Regions from separate parts of the Homo sapiens genome. Here region 2 is linked to region 1. Evidence: fine-mapped expression QTL. A gene starts in region 1. The other region holds a variant in brackets. All regions are shown on one strand. Distances are from middle to middle. Region 1 holds the start of NAA50 (N-alpha-acetyltransferase 50, NatE catalytic subunit). Region 2 overlaps NAA50 (N-alpha-acetyltransferase 50, NatE catalytic subunit).

Region 1 (10,017 bases):
CACAACAGAAGTAAGGATCTTTGAAATTATGATAAACAGGGAATATATCTTGATTCAATAAGATGAGTGCTTGGACTACTAAGTGACTTTAAAAAATCTTTTCCAACTCAGAAAGTATTGATTATTCTTTGTTTAGAGCTTTCCTAAGAGTTGTCTGCAATTTCAGGAAGAAATTACACCACTAATGGCAACACAACATGAGTCAACAATGCACACAACTGTATAGGCAGCAGACATACTTTCTAAATTACACGATGATTCTATTTACAGATAGATGCAAACACTTGATCTTATGCTTTATGGCATAGTTGTGCCACATCATTAAATACTGAAATAAATTTTATTATAAATTACTTCCCTTTTATTTTTCTTTTATATTAGAGAGAACAGTACATTGATTTTTTAAAAAAACTTATGGTGTAAGGTTATATTTTATATGAATTCATCTCAACACAGCAAGGGCACATTACAAAGTATTTGTTAAAATTCACTATCTCAATCAACAAACCACAAATTGTTTCACAGAAGGAAGAAGTATAAACTGTAGGTTTATAAAAGGTGTCAAATGCTACGTCAGCCTGACTAGCTTTTGGTTTTGCTGAAAAACAAAACAGCAATAAACCTTTAAAAAAAGTTTTGTTTTGTTTTGTTTTTTAAGACCAGTTTTCGCTCTGTTGCCCAGGCTGAAATATAGTGACAAGATCATGGCTCTCTGCAGCCTTGAACTCCTGGGCTCAAGTGATCCTCCTGCCTCAGCCTCCCAAGTAGCTGGAACTACAGACTTGCACCAGCATGCCTGGCTTTTTTTTTTTTTTTTTTGAGACAGAGTCTCACTCTGTCGCCCAGGCAGGAATGCAGTGGCACGATCTCAGCTCACTACAACCTCCACCTGCCAGGTTCAGGTGATTCTCCTGGCTGCTTTATTGTTTGTAGAGACAAGGTCTCACTATGCTGAGATGCAAAAAGCATTCCTTTTGCCCCTTCCCAGTCCATATGCTGTCAGAGGTAACCACTGTTCGGAGTTTTTAAAGTTTTGTTTCTGACTGCAGAATCTTACATTTTAATTTTATTTGGTAAAATGGCTCCCTTTACTATTCCAATTAGTAGTCAACATTGTTCCATATTTATATTACTGCTACCTACTTTCCCATCTTAGTCACGTATTCACATTTTGTTAAAGACATTTTTTATTAGAACTAATTTGCACCTCTTTACTACAATTGAAGGCTAAATGATTTGGTTTTATTATACTTTCCATTACACTGCCTAATTACATTGCCACCTCAGTCATGGTTATCTGTGGCATACCTTCTTGCTTGAAATCGCCTTCCCTAGAGAAGAACAGATAAAAATATCACCCACAAATTCAAACTACAATGTCCCTGGTTCATAAAAACAGCCAACCTCAAAAGTAAGCAACATTTCCTAGTATATCTCAAACTTCTACATGTGCATATAAATTACATTCAGTAGTTAATAACCGGAAATTTATCTTCTATGGAGGAAAGACATGCCAATACAATGGAAAGTCCTACTGCTACTACTAATAAAAATACTCATGGTAAAAATATGAAGAAAAACCAGCTAAGTTTTAAGTTTCAATATGATAGGCAACATAGGCAACAGTGTACAATTTTAAATATTTGACTGGCTTCGTGTTGGGACTTCCGCAGTTTCCAATTTTAGATATTTCAATTTACTGTTTACTTACCTCAATATACAATAGAATACTTAGCAAATAAAATTTCATACAAAAGCCACATAACCAGGACCACTGTTTCGTTTTTACAGGCCATTCCAAATTAAGAGTCAGGACTTTAAAATCGACCACACTGTGCACTGTGGTACAAGTTTTGGAACTCAAGGCGCTTAACTTATTTTAAACCTATACTGTTGTAGGTTCAGTATCCGAACAAGCACAAGTAAGATTCACACAACTCATTTGTTGAGTGTCTTAAATACAGACTTAGAAGCAAAAAAAATTAAAAAGTTTCATCTCATCTGGGAGTTAGTTCATTTGTTAAGTTAAAGGGATTATTCCTGTGAAATCATCTTAAAGGTTTACAGTAAAGAACACAATTCTAAGCTCCCAATCATAAGAAGTAATAGGAACTTCACTGGCATAGTTACTGGCATAAAGGTACAGATTCAATAGTTGTAAGTTTCCTCTAAATTCGGCCAGTTATTTCTAGGGATCTGCCTTCATCAGGTTACATGTAAATACCCATTTTAAACAGAGATAATTGCTCCATGAATATATTAATTCAAGGTAGATTGTGAATAATATGACTGTTCAGCTTCATTTCTATCGCCAAGTTATGTATCAGAAAGAACATCACAGCCTATGGAGACTGAACTAGATTGAAGATTTTGGATCTAAACATACAGAATAATTTCCTGGCAACCCCTTCGTAAATCCATGGCAATTTCAACACTGGGAACTCTTCAGCCTCATTTTTCTTACTTAACAGAACATGACAAACAAGTACTGAGTGCCTGACAATGAGTACAAAAATGAGTAAGAGTCAGCAACCATGTTCAAGAAGTGCAGTATATGCCGCGTTCAGTGGCTCACACCTGTAATCCCAGCACTTTGGGAGGCAGAGGTGGGTGGATCGCTTGAGCTCAGGAGTTTGAGACCAGCCTGGCCAACATAGTCAGACCCCCGTCTCTACAAAATATACAAAAAATTAGCAAGGCGTGGTGGTGCGCGCCTGAGGTCCCACCGACTCGGAAGGCTGAGGCGGGAGGATTGCTTGAGCTGGGGAGGCAAAGGTTGCAGTGGGCCGAGATAGCGCCACTGCACTCCAGCCTGGGCAACAGAGCCAGACCCTGCCTCATTAAAAAAAAAAAAATGAAAAGAACAAAACAAAAGGAGTGCAGTATAGCAGAAAAACAACATTCTCCAAATATGTTGGATTGTATCTGAAATAGCCAAACTTCCAAGATCATGATTCAAGTGGAGCAAATACTTCCTATACCCGTCAATTATATTTCCCTAACTGGAACTCTTTACAACTTGATGTGAAACAATGCAGGTACTGTGAATAGTTCATGGTTCTTAAACTTTAAAGATTATTAGTACAAAACATACAATTCAACATTAGAATAAATATCCAGTATTTAAAGGAAAATTAAAGTAAGGAAACATGTTACAGACCTAAGACCAAATTAAACTTTCTTGGAATCTCTTCAGGAACCTCAAATACCGATACACAGAGGTAATATTTAGGTCCTTGTTTGGGGCAGTATGAGATTACGTTGAAAGTGACTTTTATTTCATCCTCAAAAGTGCTATTGAATAGTTGGAATGACTTCGTTAACTTAAAACATAGTTACGACTTCTTAATCGACTTACAACAACAAACTATGGCATCGCAGAGAGCTTTTTAACGTTTATGAGCTTCATCTCTTTGAGGGTAAAGACAAGCTCCAAAACGGCTTGAGACAATGCTTCGGAAAAATGTTACGTAATTAATACATTAAAACTATACAACTTAATGGTAAGGAGACATTTCATAAAAACTTAACCAGTCGATCCAAAATAATTCCTAATTTTACGTAAGAGGCAAACGGTGAAAGACCGAACATTAACTTTGCCAATCACCTGAAAGGAGCAGCGTGGTAGAACTACCCAGGACCGCCTCAGCACTCAGGGGCAATAGTGAACTACTGAAGCAACAGCTCCACCTACTGATCCACCCTATACTTCCTTAAATATGTTGGCACCCCAAGTCTACAGTGATCGCGCTCTCTCCCCCTCCTCCACTCGCTGTGACCCAACCCAAATCTAGTTGAGTCACTAGCTCTTAATACTCATCCCCGTGCTCTTTATTCCAATTTCTTCTTCCTCCAGAAGGTTCTGCACAGCTCCCAAGCGTGAATTAAACTGAAAGGTGTCAAACACCGCAGTTCCAGAGTTGAGTCTGGAGGTGGAAGACAACCAAACCACTCCACCTGGAGCTGCGGGCCGGCGTGGCTCAGCGGTCCGCTCCCGGGAAGGAGGCCCCGGGCGCTTCACAATAGCCTTTCCATGTTGCCCCACTCGGTCGCTTCTCCCCACTCAACAACCCACACTCGTCTCCGAACCGAAACCCTGAAGCCCCCCGGGTCTTGCCTCCGCTGGCCCTTCAGCCCGCCAACAGCCCGAGCCTCGCCTCCGCCCCCTCCGGGAGCCGAGGGAACTGAGAAGCAGAGAAATCTCCCTCCGCCCGTCTTCGCCCTGAATCTCTCCTCGCCTTTGCGGCTCTCCCCCTCTACATGGGCCCGGACCCTTCTACCCCACCGGCCGGGCCCTGCCCGGCTGCCCTTCCTCACCCTTTCATCTTCCCCGCCTGCTGAGGCCGTCGTTACCACCGATATCAACGCCGTCGTAGTCGCCGCCCTTAGGTCTCCGCACCCTTAGCTCGGGCCACTCAACCCCGCAAGCCGGCCTCCTAGCCTGGGCAGGGAGCTGTGCGAGCAACGAAGGCCGCGAGAGTCGAGTGAGGGCTTGAGTCTGGTGGGGGCGGGAGTGTCTCCCGCCGCCGCGCTTGTGCCGCCGCTTCTCCACACGTGCACTCGGGTCTCTCGGCTCCCTCCCGCCGCTGCCGCCAGCCAGACCCGCTGCCGCGCTGTGACCTTTCACCCCGCCCCTCGCGCGCCGGCGCGCCGCCGCCTCACGCGCAGCCGCACTGCTCGCCTCCGCGCACCCTGCCCCCTCCACTCCGGAACCTCCATCTTTCTCCTGGACTGGGCCTTCTGGGGTCATGCTCCTCCCTCCCACCCGCTTACGACACTGCTTGTGGGGCTGGCTCGGTAGGCCCTGGCGGTAAAATCCAGATTTTTCCACCCCTCCCTCTCTTGTCCCATATCCGCAAGATAGTTTTTCTCAGCCCCGTTCTTCCCAGTTTGTGGTCTCCAGAGTGACCTTCAAACGCTGTTGCCTCCTAGTAGGGTTTTATAAAGTTAGTTCTTCTAAATGTAAAGAAATCTGTGGAAAGCTCAAGTTTAAGTTAGGTGTTTTAAAACAAACGTAGTTAACAATCGGCCAGATAGATTGGCTACCCTCCAGCACGCCTCAAGTTTTAAGATCACGTGATTGGCCCAAACCTCAGAGCCTGGAATTTTACCGGCGGACTCCAGAGGGACGGAACGCCACCGCCATTTCCTGTCCCTCGATTGTGGCGTGAACGTCACTTCCTTAGCAATGCGCTTTAACTCTTGCTGTCCACATTTTCCACATTGTACTTTATAACATACTCTTTGTGAAAATTTATCTTTTATTTCTTTAATCCAAGAAAATTAATATTCAAGGGATCCGTAAAAATTCAGGCCCCCCGAGATGTAGAGCGCTGGGATGGAGGAGGCAGGGCGGAGCTCGACGTCATGTGACTGGTTGGGCCCGCCCCCCCCCCCCCCCCCAACCTGTGCAGCTGAGGACTTCCCCTCCGTGGTGACAGCCTCTGGGTCCTCGGTCGGTACAGTCTCTGCACCTCGCGCCCCAGCAGGTGAGCGGCGACCGGTAACTGGCGAGTGGTGGGGATAGAGGGGGTGGAAGGAGGCAGAGGAAGGAGAGAAGGGAGAGTGTGAACGGCGACTTTTCTGCCTGAGGCTTCCTCCCCGCTGTCACCCTGCACCGGCAAGGAGCTCATTTCTCCTTAACCCCCGCTCCCCCAAGTGTGGTCGTTCCCGCTACTTGGGGATTCAGATGTCCACCTTTCCCAGGGTTGGAAGTGAGTGCGGCCATTATGGTTCCCTACTCAGAGCCTTTGGGGCTTCGGGTAGCAGATTGTTTCAGCCATTTCACAGGGTCTGCAGTAGACATTAGGTCCCATTCCTTAAAGCCCATTCTTTGGCAAAGGTCCTCACTGTCCTTACCCTCAGCTCAGGGCTGAGGAGCGGGGAGGTAGCAAAAACCCTGGAGGCAGAGGCGTCTCCGGTGAGACAGGCTTGGGAGGGACTGTCACTGATACGGCCCTCACTGCAGAGTCACTGTGAAGCTTCCCTCCGAATGTGCTTTCTCAGTGATTCTAAGGATTTTATCTGACATACCTGCAGGGAAGGTTCCGTAGATGTTCACGTGCTTCGGATGGGACTAGAAAAGTAAAAGAAGGGCTTTTACTTTTTCTTCTCTGCAGAGAGGACAGTTGAAGGAATACTGTCTTCAAAACAGGAGGTGTTAGTAATGCGACAGTCTCGATTGAATGAGGAGGCGTTGAAAGATGGTATTGTGGTGTTGTGGTGTGCAGGAGGCCCAGGCTGGTTTAGGGAAGAGTGAGTAGGGTTCCCTGAAACCGAAATAAGAAACTGATTGGGTTGGAAATAGTTAAACCAAATTGATTTGGCCATATGCTTAAAGGTAGAATCAAGTCGAGATGTTGCTGTCTGCACATGTTTTCTGCCGTCAATCCTTCCCTTTTTGTCATTTTCCCCTAAAATACTACTGAATTGGCACTCCCAATCTATTCCTTGATCGGCTTTGTGGTAAATTTAGGTTAAGTAGCATTTGTATCCCTCTTTAGCTTTCCCCATTTGTAAAACTCCCGGTGCCCTCTTCAGATTTTGATGAATAGTATTTTGTGAAAATACAGAAATTGTTGTCCAATTGAAAATACAGGTGTTGTCCAACCCAAGTACTCCCATTCCGTCCATAATGTATTATTACCAATGTTTTGATCCCAAACAATGTGCTTTAGGGAAGAATGTTTTTCAGTTTGTGGTTAAACTCTTTTATTTATACTGCAAACTCAGAAAATTCCATGCTGCTTTTCAATTGAAGGTCTTACGAATATTACAAATTTGATTTTTAAAATTTAAATTACACCTTTCTTAATATGAAAAATTATATGCTCAGTTAAATCTTGTAGTTTTCTAACTAAGGTAATTAAAGAAGACTGCTGGAAAATGAGGAAGATGGAATCATCTTTGGTGGATGTGACTGATTTATTTTTGTTTTTCTGTGTCTTCCAAATTCTATACAATAAACGGTCTTATTTTGTTAAGGAGAATAAAAAGTTAAAATTCTACAATAGCAGCAGTTTAACAAAGTATTTTTATAGTAAGTGCAAAATACATAACCTAGCTTATTGATGCTCCTTAGTAGAAAACATAACCTCGGAGATGTTGCTTTCCCCAAGTAATGAAGATTACTACTATCTCTTGTGGATTTACCATTTTAGCATTTCGTACTTACGACCCATACTGGACAATAGACTAATGTATTGATATATTTATGTCATCATGCCTGCTGTAGATATATATATGTAGTTTTATCCATTAATTTTCTCCATAATAAGGTTCCTTGATCTCTAGAGGAGAGGGGAAGAAAAAAAGGAAGTGTTACTTCAGTGACCAGGTGACATTGCACCACGTAAGGAGAATTCCTTATGTGGTCTGGAAGTCCTAACTAGTCCTGTCTGGCTGAGACCAAAATGTGAAAGAGAAAACCAGCTAGAAGCATTGACTACTAGAGGGGAAAATGTCAGTATGAAAGTGGTTGGATGAGTCTGCAGTTTTACTTCACAATTCCCCCAGTTTTAGGGAACTCGTGAAAGCAATAACTTAGACCACTGATGAAATGTAGATTAGTAGTGGGAATTGGTGATTACATTGCTAGTAAGGTTAAATGTGAAAAAAAGCTTTGACATTATACACAGATCACACACACACACACACACACACACACACACACACACACACACGATTGGAAGCCTGGAAAACATTTCTGAGACTAGCCTTATCAGTTTATGAGTGTTACATGTAGAAATCTTAACATTTATTAGGGAATTGTGCTATAGTCCACTATTAAATAAAGCATAAGGGTTTGGTTTTATTTTAGGGCCCTTGGCACTTCTGGTTTTCTTTTCCTGAGTTCTTGTTTTCAGTGCCTTTATAGATTTTTGCCACCACTAAGAATGCTTTCTTCCCCATGGGCAGAGGTAGCCACTCAGTCCTATAGACTACTACTAATCATCATCATCATCTTTTCTATTCTTCTACTTGCACTTCTAGCATTGTATTTAATTCCTGTTCCCTGGGCTCTTCCTCAGCAAATCATAAAGCTCTCAGGACTGTGAACTATAATACTATTGTGTCTTCAGCACCAGAATACTGAAGTACCTGATAGGTACTCAATAAATTATTTATTGAATGAATGTTGGGCAATTAGACAAAGAAATTAAACCACTTTAATTTTTGCAGATCATAGCTCTTCCTAAAGTTGTGCACTAAATGTTAGCTTTTAAATATAAACTGGTAATAACCTTCCAAATTCATGGTCAATACAATAGATAAAAACCTCAGATGGACTTTATTAATGCTGAGACCAACTTATTTTCACAGCATGTTTGTTTACTAATAAGTATGGTTATCATCAAAATATGGGAGAGAAGGGAAGAGGAATGAATCGTACTAAATGAAAAAGTGGCTCTGCGTGATCTATAAGTGGACTAGCACTAGACTAAAAGTCAGAGGATCTTCATTCAGCTCTGCCACTTTAGTTATATGTCCTTTTACGTAATGCTGGGGAGGGGTTCAGGTTTGATACTTAGGAACCTTCCTATGACATAAACCCTAGGTAATCTATGTGAAAATATCTTAAAAACTAAGTGGTGTCTGTAATCCCAGTGCTTTGGGAGGCCAAGGCGGGCAGATCACAACGTCAGGAGATCGAGACCATCCTGGCTAACACGGTGAAACCCTGTCTTTACTTAAAAAAATTAAAAAAATTAGCCAGGCATGGCGGCACGCGCCTGTAGTGCCAGCTACTCAGGAGGCTGAGGCAGGAGAATCACTTGAACCCGACAGGTGGAGGTTGCAGTGAGCCAAGATCACACCACTGCGCTCCAGCCTGGGCAACAGAGTGAGACTCCATCTCAAAAAAAACAAAAACAAAAACAAAAAAAACTAAGTGGTGTGTAAAATGGTAAAGCAGTGTAGCTCAGACTTTACATGAATTGATTTCCCAGTCATAGAGACCTAGTTGAAGTTCTGGCCCTACCACTTAATAACTGTGTGACTTTGGACAGTGTACTTAAGTAAGGTTAAGTTTTCTCACGTTTAAATCTATAGATGGTGCTATTAAGTTAGATCATGAATGTAAAATGCCTAGAACATATTTTGTAAAAAAAATTTTTAATTAATTTTACTGATAACTACTTTGATTTTATATACTGAATTTCTAAAGACTTAAGACAACCCACAGAATTGACTGATGTCCCTGTGAGCAGCAGGTTTGGGGCATGAAGAAGAGAGTAGAATTTGAAAAGAAGCTATTACCCAAAAAATGGGGGAACAAGAAAAGTGTACTTGTAGCAAAGATTCTAAAACAGATTTATTAATTTTATCTGAAAAATATCAAGATAAAGTCCCTTATTTGGGCAACTGCAGTGTCTTAATATTTTCTATATAAAGATTTTCCAAAGCTTGTAATCATTAATGTATGGAATAAATTTAAGGAGGCAGTTCTTCAATTTTGAAGTTTTTATTCCTGCAATGGATTATAGAAGTATATTAAAATTGTACAGATTGTAGAGCAGGGACTTTTGAGTTAATGCTTATAAGCTTAAAAATTTTGTCTTTTTAAAAAAATTAAGTGTTTTTATATCTTATTTTTATCCTTATATGAAATAGACAAAGAAATGTAGAGAACATAATGGAGACATAAACTAGAGTAAAATTCTTCCCTTCTTAAATTCATGATTCACAAGGGTTAGTAGTTTTGCAATGGAAAATATCAGCAAATTAAACAGTAAGTATAGCTATCATGAGTTTATGAATCACTTTATTCCTGAAAAAAAAAATTACTCATTTGTCTTAAGGAAAGATTTTATTAAGTTTATTGACTTTTCCTTAATGTTGATTGTCTATTATAACAAATGGATTTATTGATTTAGGAATGAATTTATTCTTTATACTAAGTAACTTTATTTTAAATAAATGAAATGTGAGCAATAAAAATGTTTTCCATATAATTTCTGAAGAGAATATTAGTTTTGCTATTCTCTTTTTTCCCTATGGTGAAATGATAGCGACTTT
Region 2 (10,017 bases), 24 kb before region 1:
GAGAACAGCATCAGTCTGAGACAGACTAGTCTCCCCTCCCCACTGAAAACCCAACCACAAGAGCACAGCCTTTAGACCCACTATTTCTTTTATATCCCGAATAACTGTAAAGTGCAGTGCTTTATAACCCTCATTTAGAAAACTACTCCTTTTAGAGACTAATAAAACACAACCTAACCAAAACTACCCTGACCTTGGGAGTCAACGAAGCCCAGCATCTTCTCTGAGCAGTGATAGCCAGTCTCCTAGAGGGCCCAATGATATCCACCTCCCAGTATTCACATCCTTGTGCAGTCCCCTCCCACACTATACCAAGCTGATTCAATGGTTGGTCTGTGTGACTCATGGAATATGGCAGAAATAATGTCACCTGAGGCTACGTCATAAAAAAGTATGGTTTCTGCTCACTTTCTTATATCACCTGCTCTAGGGGAAGCCACATACCAGTTGTCCACCAGGCAACTGGTGCCCAAGGAACTGAAGCCCAAGAGCCACGTGAGCATCAGGCACTGTGTGTGATACCCACACAGTGAGGAACAGAAGCCCAAGAGCCACGTAAGCAAGACATCTTGGAAATGGCTCCTCTAGCCTTGTCAAGCTTCAAGATGGTACAGTCCTGGCTAACAGCTTGACTGCAACCTTCTGAGATCTCAAGACAGAACCACCCAGTTAAGCAGCTCCTAGATTCCTGATCCAGAACTGTGGAAGGTAATACTTGTTTGTTGTTTTAAACTACAGTAATAACTGAGACACACTAGACAAGGATCACTCATTGCTTCTTAAATGAAAAAAGCAAAAATCTAATTATAACAATTTTGACTAGAAATATTAAATACTGAATTCTGTTAAAGAAAAAATCTTAAATTCATGTTTGATAAAAAGCTTAAAAGCCAATTCCCAACTCATTGAACTACCGTACTCCTTCCTTACAAGGAAGAAAAACAAAACACCTGAATATGTTGTCTGTAGCCAATAAACATTACTAACTAGATTGCAGCCTAAAGTGTCAAGTATTTCTAATAATTACATTAAAAATACAGCAGCAAGACAGTTCCTTGGATCTTACTTTTTCCCTCTCATTGGAACTGAATTGTAGATATTGGGCACTGTACCTAGCAAGTCACAGAAGATCTGAATTAGGATGCCTTAATTACACTTGGCCTATTTTAATGATTTTAAAATTAGATCTTAAATGTGAAAGTAAATAAAAGCAGTAAGGGAAACACTACACAATGAGTATGTACGGTTGCTGGCTGCAGAATTCAACAATACAGTTTTGACATTTACAGATATCACAGATCACTACCAGAACATCACATAAGTTTATTTCAGATGTAACAGCAATGTTAAAATTGACAAGTTTAATTCTTAACTGCACCAAGTAAACTTAGCCATTTAAGTATTTTTTTAAGTTATTCCCTCCAAAAAACTGAGGGAGCTTTTCTTTTCCACCACCACACCATGGTTTCCCAATAGTTCTCTTTTTGGAGGACTTTTCAATTGATGAGTAAACTGCTTTAGATATTTCAGAACTTCATTCCCCAAATGAAAGCTAATCTGGACAAACTATATATTGCATAGATTTCTCTACAGATTCTTTGCTTTAAAACCTAAATGCAACTAACATAGTGTAATTTTAACCTATTTGCCCCACAGTAAAAACTATCTGTCCTGAAAAATATGATGGATATATCCTGTGATTTTCCAGTTAACAGAATTGTTCTACTTCAAAGATAATTATTATCATATATCAAAATAACCAGCTCAACATAGGACATTACTTCAGTCTTTACTGACTCATAGGCATATGAACTTGTGCCCAGCTTTTTACCTCTTCCACATTCTCCTCCTCCTCCATAAGTGGATGGAATTATTTAACTAAGTTTGATGTAGGACAATTAACCCTTTACAAACATTTACAATTCAGGTTAAGTCACTGACTACCGTGGAAAAAGAAACTCTATATATAATGATAGGGAGCCTACACACTCAATTCAAAATTTAATATTTTTTCCTCCTTAAATAACATGTACTTGTCATGAGGCAGCTATTAGGTTTTCAATAACCACATTTAGGGATACATTCATAGGACTGATTAGATAGTCCAGGTGAAATGGTTATAGAAATAGAGGCAGTGTCATCTCAGAAAACCATTTATATATCAAAGTCTATTTTGATATCTGGGAAGTTTACAAAAAGGCTGCTGCATTCTTCAAACTACTTATGCCTTCTGTAACTCAAGCACTCTTCTCTTGCCAAGAGCAAGCTGAAGCTTATTCATGAAGATAAAGGTGCTTAACGCTAAACTTTTCTTCTAAGCTTAGATTTGGATTGTTTAAGAAACGAATACCCCCAAAAAACCAGCAAGGTCTTTCTACATTTTTACCATCTTAAGATTAGAACCCTATAAACTCATTCATCAACTGTCTTCTTTTTCTGTATTATTCTTGGCACTCAAGATTGTTGAAGTCTACTGCACTTTGTACTTTCACATTCTCAAATAAAAACTTAAGGTTATAAAGTGTGCATAAACATTTTATAAAATAATTTTGTCATTTAACATATTTGGAAATGAGACTTTATACCGCAATTTTACATAAGAGGATAAATATGAATGAAACTTCCTTTTAAAGTCAAATGACAGAAAGCTCAAGCCCTGTGCATTATTTTAAAGTCTGAGAACATTTCTAAATAGTGGAGATGGGACTACAAAAGGAAAACATGAATATTTCAGATGTCTCCCATCTTACAAAGTTATCAATCTGTCAAAGCCACTCCGTGTGTGCCGGAAAATGATCTGGCATAAACCAGTCCTCTCAGTGGAGGAGGTCACAGTGACATTTGTATTATTAACATTTTACACTTCTATTTTTCCAAGAATAGAAGCAATATGTTTAATAATTACCCCTGCCTCAAATCCTTAAACTCAATATCACAGGCACTGAGTATAAGCAAATCTGGGATGTCCTCCAACAGATGTGCAATAGCACAGCTATGTTATTCTCAAAAATACTATTTTTTCCTATAAAATCAAATGCTCAGTGGCCACACTTTTAACAGCTGGCATTAGATGACAGTAATTGAATTTTTTGTGTCACAGCCCATCTAAGCTTCCTTTTAGGTATTTTTTAGTATGTCCAAGAGAAAACACCTGCTTCAGGTTTATTTAGGGGTAGTGACCTATAAGGACATCAACTCAATTTTTAAGGTTAGACTATTGTTGGGTTTACTGAAGAAAAAGGAACGGGAAAAAATTAAATCACAACACACCTCTTTAGGTCAGTTAAAGGCCATATCTCTAGCTGGGATATTAAAAAAAATTAATCTCACCAGCCCAAATTCTAAAAGTTAATGCCACTAGTAACAATCAACAGCAGGAAAAACAAACCTGCTAACAACCAGCCCACTCATTAGCAAAAAAGCAGTTTAACTCAAATACTTAGACCAAAGTATAACACTAAACCAAACTGCCCCACCCACCAGCAAGAAGAGAAGATATAATTACTTAAAAATCAACATAAGCTTAGTATTTCTTACAAGGATAACAATGTTCCAACTCCCGAGAGAGTGCTCAGAAGGACTAAAGGTGGAGTGAAGGCAATGTCTAGGGATTAGTATCCCAAAGTGTTTAAAAACCCAAAGTACCACAAACACACTCAACTTGTCTATGAATTAGAGAACAAGATACTGCTGCTGCTTCTTTTTGTCTTTTGAAATATACAATGTTTTGTAGGCTCTGCCCTTCAATGTGAAAGCAGGACATTAAATTTGAAATTATTTGACAATTAAATGTTTAGGACCATCTAACTTCAACTGCAAAACTAAACAGATCTACCTTGTCCTTCCTTCAAACCACCTCACAAAAATAAGAGAAAACAATTCAAACATGATTATTTTTTTAAAGTCCTTGAAAGTATTAAAACTCTCAGAGAAAAGGAAAGGAAGAAAGAAAAACAAGAACAAGGAGGGAGAAAAGCTTTAAAAGAAAAGTGTTGGGGTGGGGGAGGAATCAATGGGCCTCTCTTTTATTTGGCGACAAGCAAGTGCAAGAAAGTTCATTTGTAATTTGTTCAGTTGTCTGTCTTTTGCACATCTGCATTCTGACCAGAAGGAACTTTGAGGTTTTTCTGCAGCACATGAGCATCTGCGGGCTCTATCCTCTTATAGTAGTTCTTCTTTGTCTCAATAATCTCAAAGCCAAACTTCCTGTAGAAGTCAATTGCCGACTCATTGCTGATCTGGACATGCCTGAGATATAAGAGAGTATCAGAAAAAAAATTAAAATTAAGGTTTCATCAAGTTTTAAGCATTCTCCACAGATAGCTCCAAACATCTGTTACATTCTCTTTACAACTACCAGTAATCAACAAGGGTTAGGCATGCTTACCTAAAACCTTTTGATGACAATTTTACACTTTTAATCTAATTTTTACATTTGTAAGACAGCTGGCTGAGATTAGAAGGCTCAGTGTTTATTCTTGTAGTCAACAAAGGGAAAAGTACCACAGCTATCAAAATTTTTTCACTGTAAGAGGATAAATTATTAAAAGGCCCTATTAACACACAGAAAAAAAATGATGAAAAATAAAAAACTAGGGTCTCAAAGCTTGAAGATATATCTTCCTTCTGATTGATAAAATACATGGTATGTTTTAAAAATTAAAAACGCAAGCTTTCTCAATTACTCCCAAAATAACACTGTATAATTCAATCTCTCACATGGCCAAACTAAATTATGAACATCCATGACTGTGATCTTAGTCATAACTCTTTATCTACAGCCTCTTGAGATTCAAGTACAATCTCAGCTAGGTAATCTCTGATTTTGATTATTAAACTCTACTACAAATGATCTACTACAATGTTCAAAGCTATCAACATAGCCTTGAACAAAACACACAAGGTTTTGCATGAGAAAAGTAGTATTAATAGTCTTGAATTCTGAAGGCCTGAGTTTTAATCCTGATTTCATCCCTGTGACTTTGGTGCTCTCATCCTAATATAATAAAGCAATGTGTTCTATCTCAGGTTCCTAATCTACTATTATTAATAAAACAAAACTAAACAAAACTAACAACTACTCGAATACTTTGTAACAACTACTTCCACAGTGTTTCCAAAGGCACAATAAGTGACCAGATTTTAAAGTTTCTAGTAAAGATTTCTCCTGCCAATTAAACCCCTTTGATAAGAACATTAAATATTATTTTACTTACAGATAAATGTTGTCAAAAGTACCATCTTTTTCACAGATGTTTAAGACATGATTTAACATTTTAGTTCCTGTTAATAAAATAAATAACAAACACGTGACTTCATAAATCAACCTTTAAATTATGTATCTATCCACTTGCCATCTGAACTACTTATTGAGTCCTAAAAGAATTTATGAGGTATACACTAGATATCCTTATTTTCCAAAGTTGTGTTCTCTCTCTACAATAGCTACGTATGTTTAAAACTGTTAGCAGAAGACTAACCTTTTTAAACAAGCACTTCCGGGTAGAAGAAAAACAGAAAAAGCAGAAGGGGACGTAAACAGCAAATCTATGTAGGGCTTCCAATAGAATTATGTTAATAAACACTAGTTATTTTTCACCATATTTTACATAATTCAGTAACCCTTTCTCAGTATTCCTTAAAAAGACCCAAATTAACTTACTAGGTCAGACACATTAACAAATAATATGTTTATGCTTCTCTGAAGAAGTAAAAAAACCACAATTTTTTACCTATTCCTAGCCTTCGGTAAGGTGCCAGACATCC[T/C]AGTGTCATGATGTAAAGTCTCTTCTGATTCTGTGAATGATCCACCCTACAGCATACTGCACCTACAGCAATATCATTGAAATAGGCTGCCAAGGAAAACATAAAGATATAATGTTGAACAGACAGAATAACACATTTAATCTTTTTCCCTTTTAAAGGACTACACTGTTCCTATCAACATTAAATTTCATCAACTATTTCATGAATATCAATGATCTCAAAGCTCTTATGCCATCTTAGGAAGTTTAAGCCTCCTCTAGAGTATAGCTTAAAGTGAAAACACACAGGTATACACTAAGAACACTAAGCATTTCTTTTTAAAATTCAACTGTTTTATTCAACTGATTTCTCTGAGATTTTTCTCACAACCTAGACCACTCCCATTTCCTCACTTATAAAATAAACAAACTAAATTAGTTAACTTCTTCTGCTCTATAAAAAACTAGGGTTCAAGAACAAAAAGAAAGAAAAGAAGGGAGGACAAAAAAAAAACTATATTATACCAAGTTTTGCTAGCTCGCCAACCTCCAGCACATCCTTGTAGAACTTGTCATTGTAGCTGACTGGAAAGATGACCTGATTCAATCTTTTCAACTGTTTAATATTGTGTGGTGTCACATCTCCCAGCTCGATCCGGCTACTGGAACAAATCAAAATGTACTCAATAAAACATAATTAGCCCCATTTGTTAATATGAACATATGAAAGGGGTACCAAGTCTTTTTTACATGATTGATAAATCCAACTCTTTCAGAGTTGATTTATAAGCAAATTATCATTTATAAGCAAATTTTGACAGTCATTCAATACAAATTCTACTCATAGCTTTCATATAATTACATACATTCAGGGACAAATATGGTACACAACGACTACTACAAAGGCCAGAATAACATTCTGCAAGTGTCAAAATTTTCCTTGTAGTTCATAGTTCAGAAAAATTTAGATACACCTATTTCTGGTAAAATTACAGTTCCTTTGCCCAAGTATCTTATTACTTCTAGTAATTTATTCTAAGAAAACAATGGAGGTATGCAATACCATGCACATTCTATTCATGAAAACCGTGGTCTATGAACTACCTACATCAGAGTCACAGAGGTGATATGCAAAATTCACATTCCTGGATACACATACCCCATTTTCAGAACCAGAGTTGCTGGAAACGAAACAAAGGAATCCACCATCTTGAAAATCACCCCAGGATGAAAACTATCCATTAAGAAAGCAACAGGAGTGATATGGTTTGGCTGTGTCCCCATCCAAATTTCATCTTGTAGTTCCCATAATTCCCATGTTGTGAGAGGGACCCGGCGAATCATGGGGGCGGTTGCCCTCATGCTGTTCTCGTGATAGTGAGTTCTCACAAGATCTGATGGTTTTATAAGGAGGCTTTCCTTCACTTCGCTCTCATTTCTCCTTCCTGCCACCATGTGAAGAATGATGTGTTTGCTTCCCCTTCCACCATGTTTATAGGTTTCCTGAGACCTCCCTATCCCTGCGCAACTGTGAGTCAATTAAACCTCTTTCCTTTATAAATTACCCAGTCTCGGGTATGTCTTTATTAGCAGCATGAGAAAGGACTAATAAAAGGAGCATTCCTAAGAAACCACTTGTAATCAAAACAATTGGGTCCATGGAAAAGATTAAAGCGAAAAATTTTCAGTTCCAATTTCTAACAAAGTATCAAAGGTATTCTGCCTGCAGAGCTGTAAACAAAGAATTTTTAATAGCTGAAGTGAACTTCAATACTGTTAAAGGTGGATCAAATGTGATAAGGCAAACCTGACAGCATTCTACAATTTTTTTGCTCCATCCGTATTATTTGCCCAAAAAGATGTTGTAGCATATTGTGTTTTGTAGAGAAAAAGCACATTTCAACTATATTTAACAACGGACTTTTGTTAACATATACAAAAACATGCTTGAAAGGATTTTAATTTGTAGTAGAAATTGTAATTTTAAAAACTGTATTTTGAAATGTTAAAATTTAGATTAAAATGCAAAAAAACAAAAACAGAAACAAAAAAAAACAGCTGGGCATGAAGGCCTGTAATCCCAGCACTTTGGGAGACCGGGGTGAGAGGATCCTTTGAGCCCTGGAGTTCAAGACCAACCTGGGCATATAGCAAAACTTTGTAAGAAATTTTTTTAAAAAAACTTAACCAGGTGTGGTGGCGTGCACCTATGGTCCCAGCTACTTAGAAGGCTGAAGTGAGAGGACTGCTTGAGCCTGGAAGGTCGAGGCTGCAGTAAGCTATGATTGTGTACCATTGCATTCCAGCCTGGGTGACAGACTGTCTCAAAAACAAAACAAAAAACAGCAATAATTACAGATAAAAAAAGAAATTTCTAAATTTGATTTATCTGGAGAGGAATATGATGTAATATTTTATCTTATAGTACAAAGTTCTCTAAGATGTATTACTCTATAATGCCCAGTTTGGAGAACATTCTACTTGGTAAGGAGTTAGAGGCAAAAACAAGAGACTTTTACCCCCTATTTAAGTAGTCTGTATGAAGAACACAAAAGACAGCATAAAGCATCGTTTCTGTCATACTTAGCAGTTTTGAAAGGCTTAGCTCATTTGGAACTTTATCCTTCCTGCCTTGATTATTTTTTATACCACTAATCTGTATTATTTGTTGCAACCAATGATCTTTTCATGTCTTGTATGTCTTCCTAAAATCTGAACATAGTTTCTTAGCAACCACACAGATTAAATAAACAAACATGTTAGTAAAAGGGTAAGAGATTTATATATTTAAAAAACCCCTCAGCACCATAGGAAGTTTAAAAAAGTAAAAATAAAAAAATAGACATTTTCTTGTTATAGTCTCTTCCAACTTCTAGTCACTTAAGTATAGTCTTTTCTCATCCCAAGTATTTGACAACTATAATGAATTCCCTGTATGAAATTCATGTTTTCTTTAAGTAGATTACATCTCATTCACAGAACTCCCCCTCTTCATAACACTTTTCTGACTAAAATCTACTGGGCTCACTTTCCCCACTATCTACCATTCACATAAAAAAAAAAAAAAATTGGGAGGCCAAGGTGGGCAGATCATAAGGTCAAGAGTTTGAGACCAGCCTGGCCAATATGGTGAAACTCTGTCTCTACTAAAAATACAAAAATTAGCCCGGTGTGGTGGCACGTGCCTGTAGTCACAGCTACCCGGGAGGCTGAGGCAGAAGAATCACTGGAACCCAGGAGGCAGAGGTTGCAGTGAGCCAAGATCGCACCACTGTACTCCAGCCTGGGCGAGAGAGCAAGACTCCGCCTCAAAAAAAAAAAAAAGAAAGAAAGAAAGAAAAATCTGTGGATACTGTTATCCTGTAAACTATAGAATCCTTTATTTTTCTTTTTTTGAGACAGGGTTGCTCTGTTGCCCAGGCATAATTACAGGTCACAGCAGCCTCCGCTTCTCAGGCTCAAGTGATCTTCCCACCTCAGCCTAACGAGTAGCTGAGGAAGGCACATGCCACCACGCCCAGCTGATTTTTGAATTTTTTGTAGAGACAGGGTTTCACCATGTTGCCCAGGCTGGTCTACAGTTCCTGAGCTCAAGTGATCCGCCCACCTTGGCCTACCAAAGTGCTGGGCCTACAGGCGTGAGCCACTGTGCCTGGCCAAAATATAGGATCCTTTAAAAATGCAGTAGCTGACAGGGATCACATCTTACCTACACTGTCTCCTGTTTAACTTACCATAGTGCCACAAGTTGGGTGTAGTAATTTTTTTATATACAGTTTGTATTAATTTAGAGCATCTCATTTAAAAAAAAGTCTTAGTATTTAAAAAGTGATTTAAAATTACATTATGAAGTTGAAGTATCAACAATAATAGTAACTTAAGAACCTACAAAGTCAAGCTTCTAAAGTATAAATGAAAGAACTTGAGGTTTTTAAAACTTTAGGAATCATTTGTAGGTAGTAACTAGGCTTCAAGCATACTTACAGTTTTCAAAGAATAATACCAGGTATTTCTTGACTTCATACAAGAAGAAAAAGTGGTTATAGTGCACTGTGCTACAATGAGTCTAATAAAAGTTAACTACTAAAAAAAGTTTCCATTAGGGTGGCCAGATAAAGCCTAAATAGAGAAAACAATATTGAACCATTAGGAAATAGGCAGCTTAATCTTCCCCTAACTAATTAAAAAAATACATGCCTTTTTTTTTTTTAAAGCACACCATAGAAATGACGTAGAAAGGGAAAATATCCTGCAATAATATGGCCAGAAATAA

Evidence for each region. PIP is the estimated chance that this variant, and not a neighbour inherited with it, causes the effect.
Region 2: its variant is fine-mapped to the expression of NAA50 in whole blood (TOPMed, PIP above 0.99).

The regions. Positions count from the first base shown.
Region 1 is chr3:113,741,625-113,751,641 of GRCh38, forward strand. It overlaps NAA50 (N-alpha-acetyltransferase 50, NatE catalytic subunit), which reads right to left and starts at 4,625. Exons shown (of 5, transcript NM_025146.4): 1 at 4,318-4,625. The coding sequence starts at 4,325. It overlaps ATP6V1A (ATPase H+ transporting V1 subunit A), which reads left to right and starts at 5,411. Exons shown (of 15, transcript NM_001690.4): 1 at 5,411-5,489. RefSeq lists enhancers at 3,469-4,205, 3,809-3,958, 4,206-4,941, 4,942-5,677, 4,999-5,368 and a silencer at 4,529-4,648.
Region 2 is chr3:113,717,690-113,727,706 of GRCh38, forward strand. NAA50 (N-alpha-acetyltransferase 50, NatE catalytic subunit) reads right to left here. Exons shown (of 5, transcript NM_025146.4): 2 at 6,270-6,406; 3 at 5,733-5,852; 4 at 5,217-5,283; 5 at 1-4,248. The coding sequence ends at 4,071. Among named protein-coding and RNA genes, the nearest start is that of NAA50, 24 kb to the right of the region's middle. The variant T/C (reference allele first, on the strand shown) is at 5,767.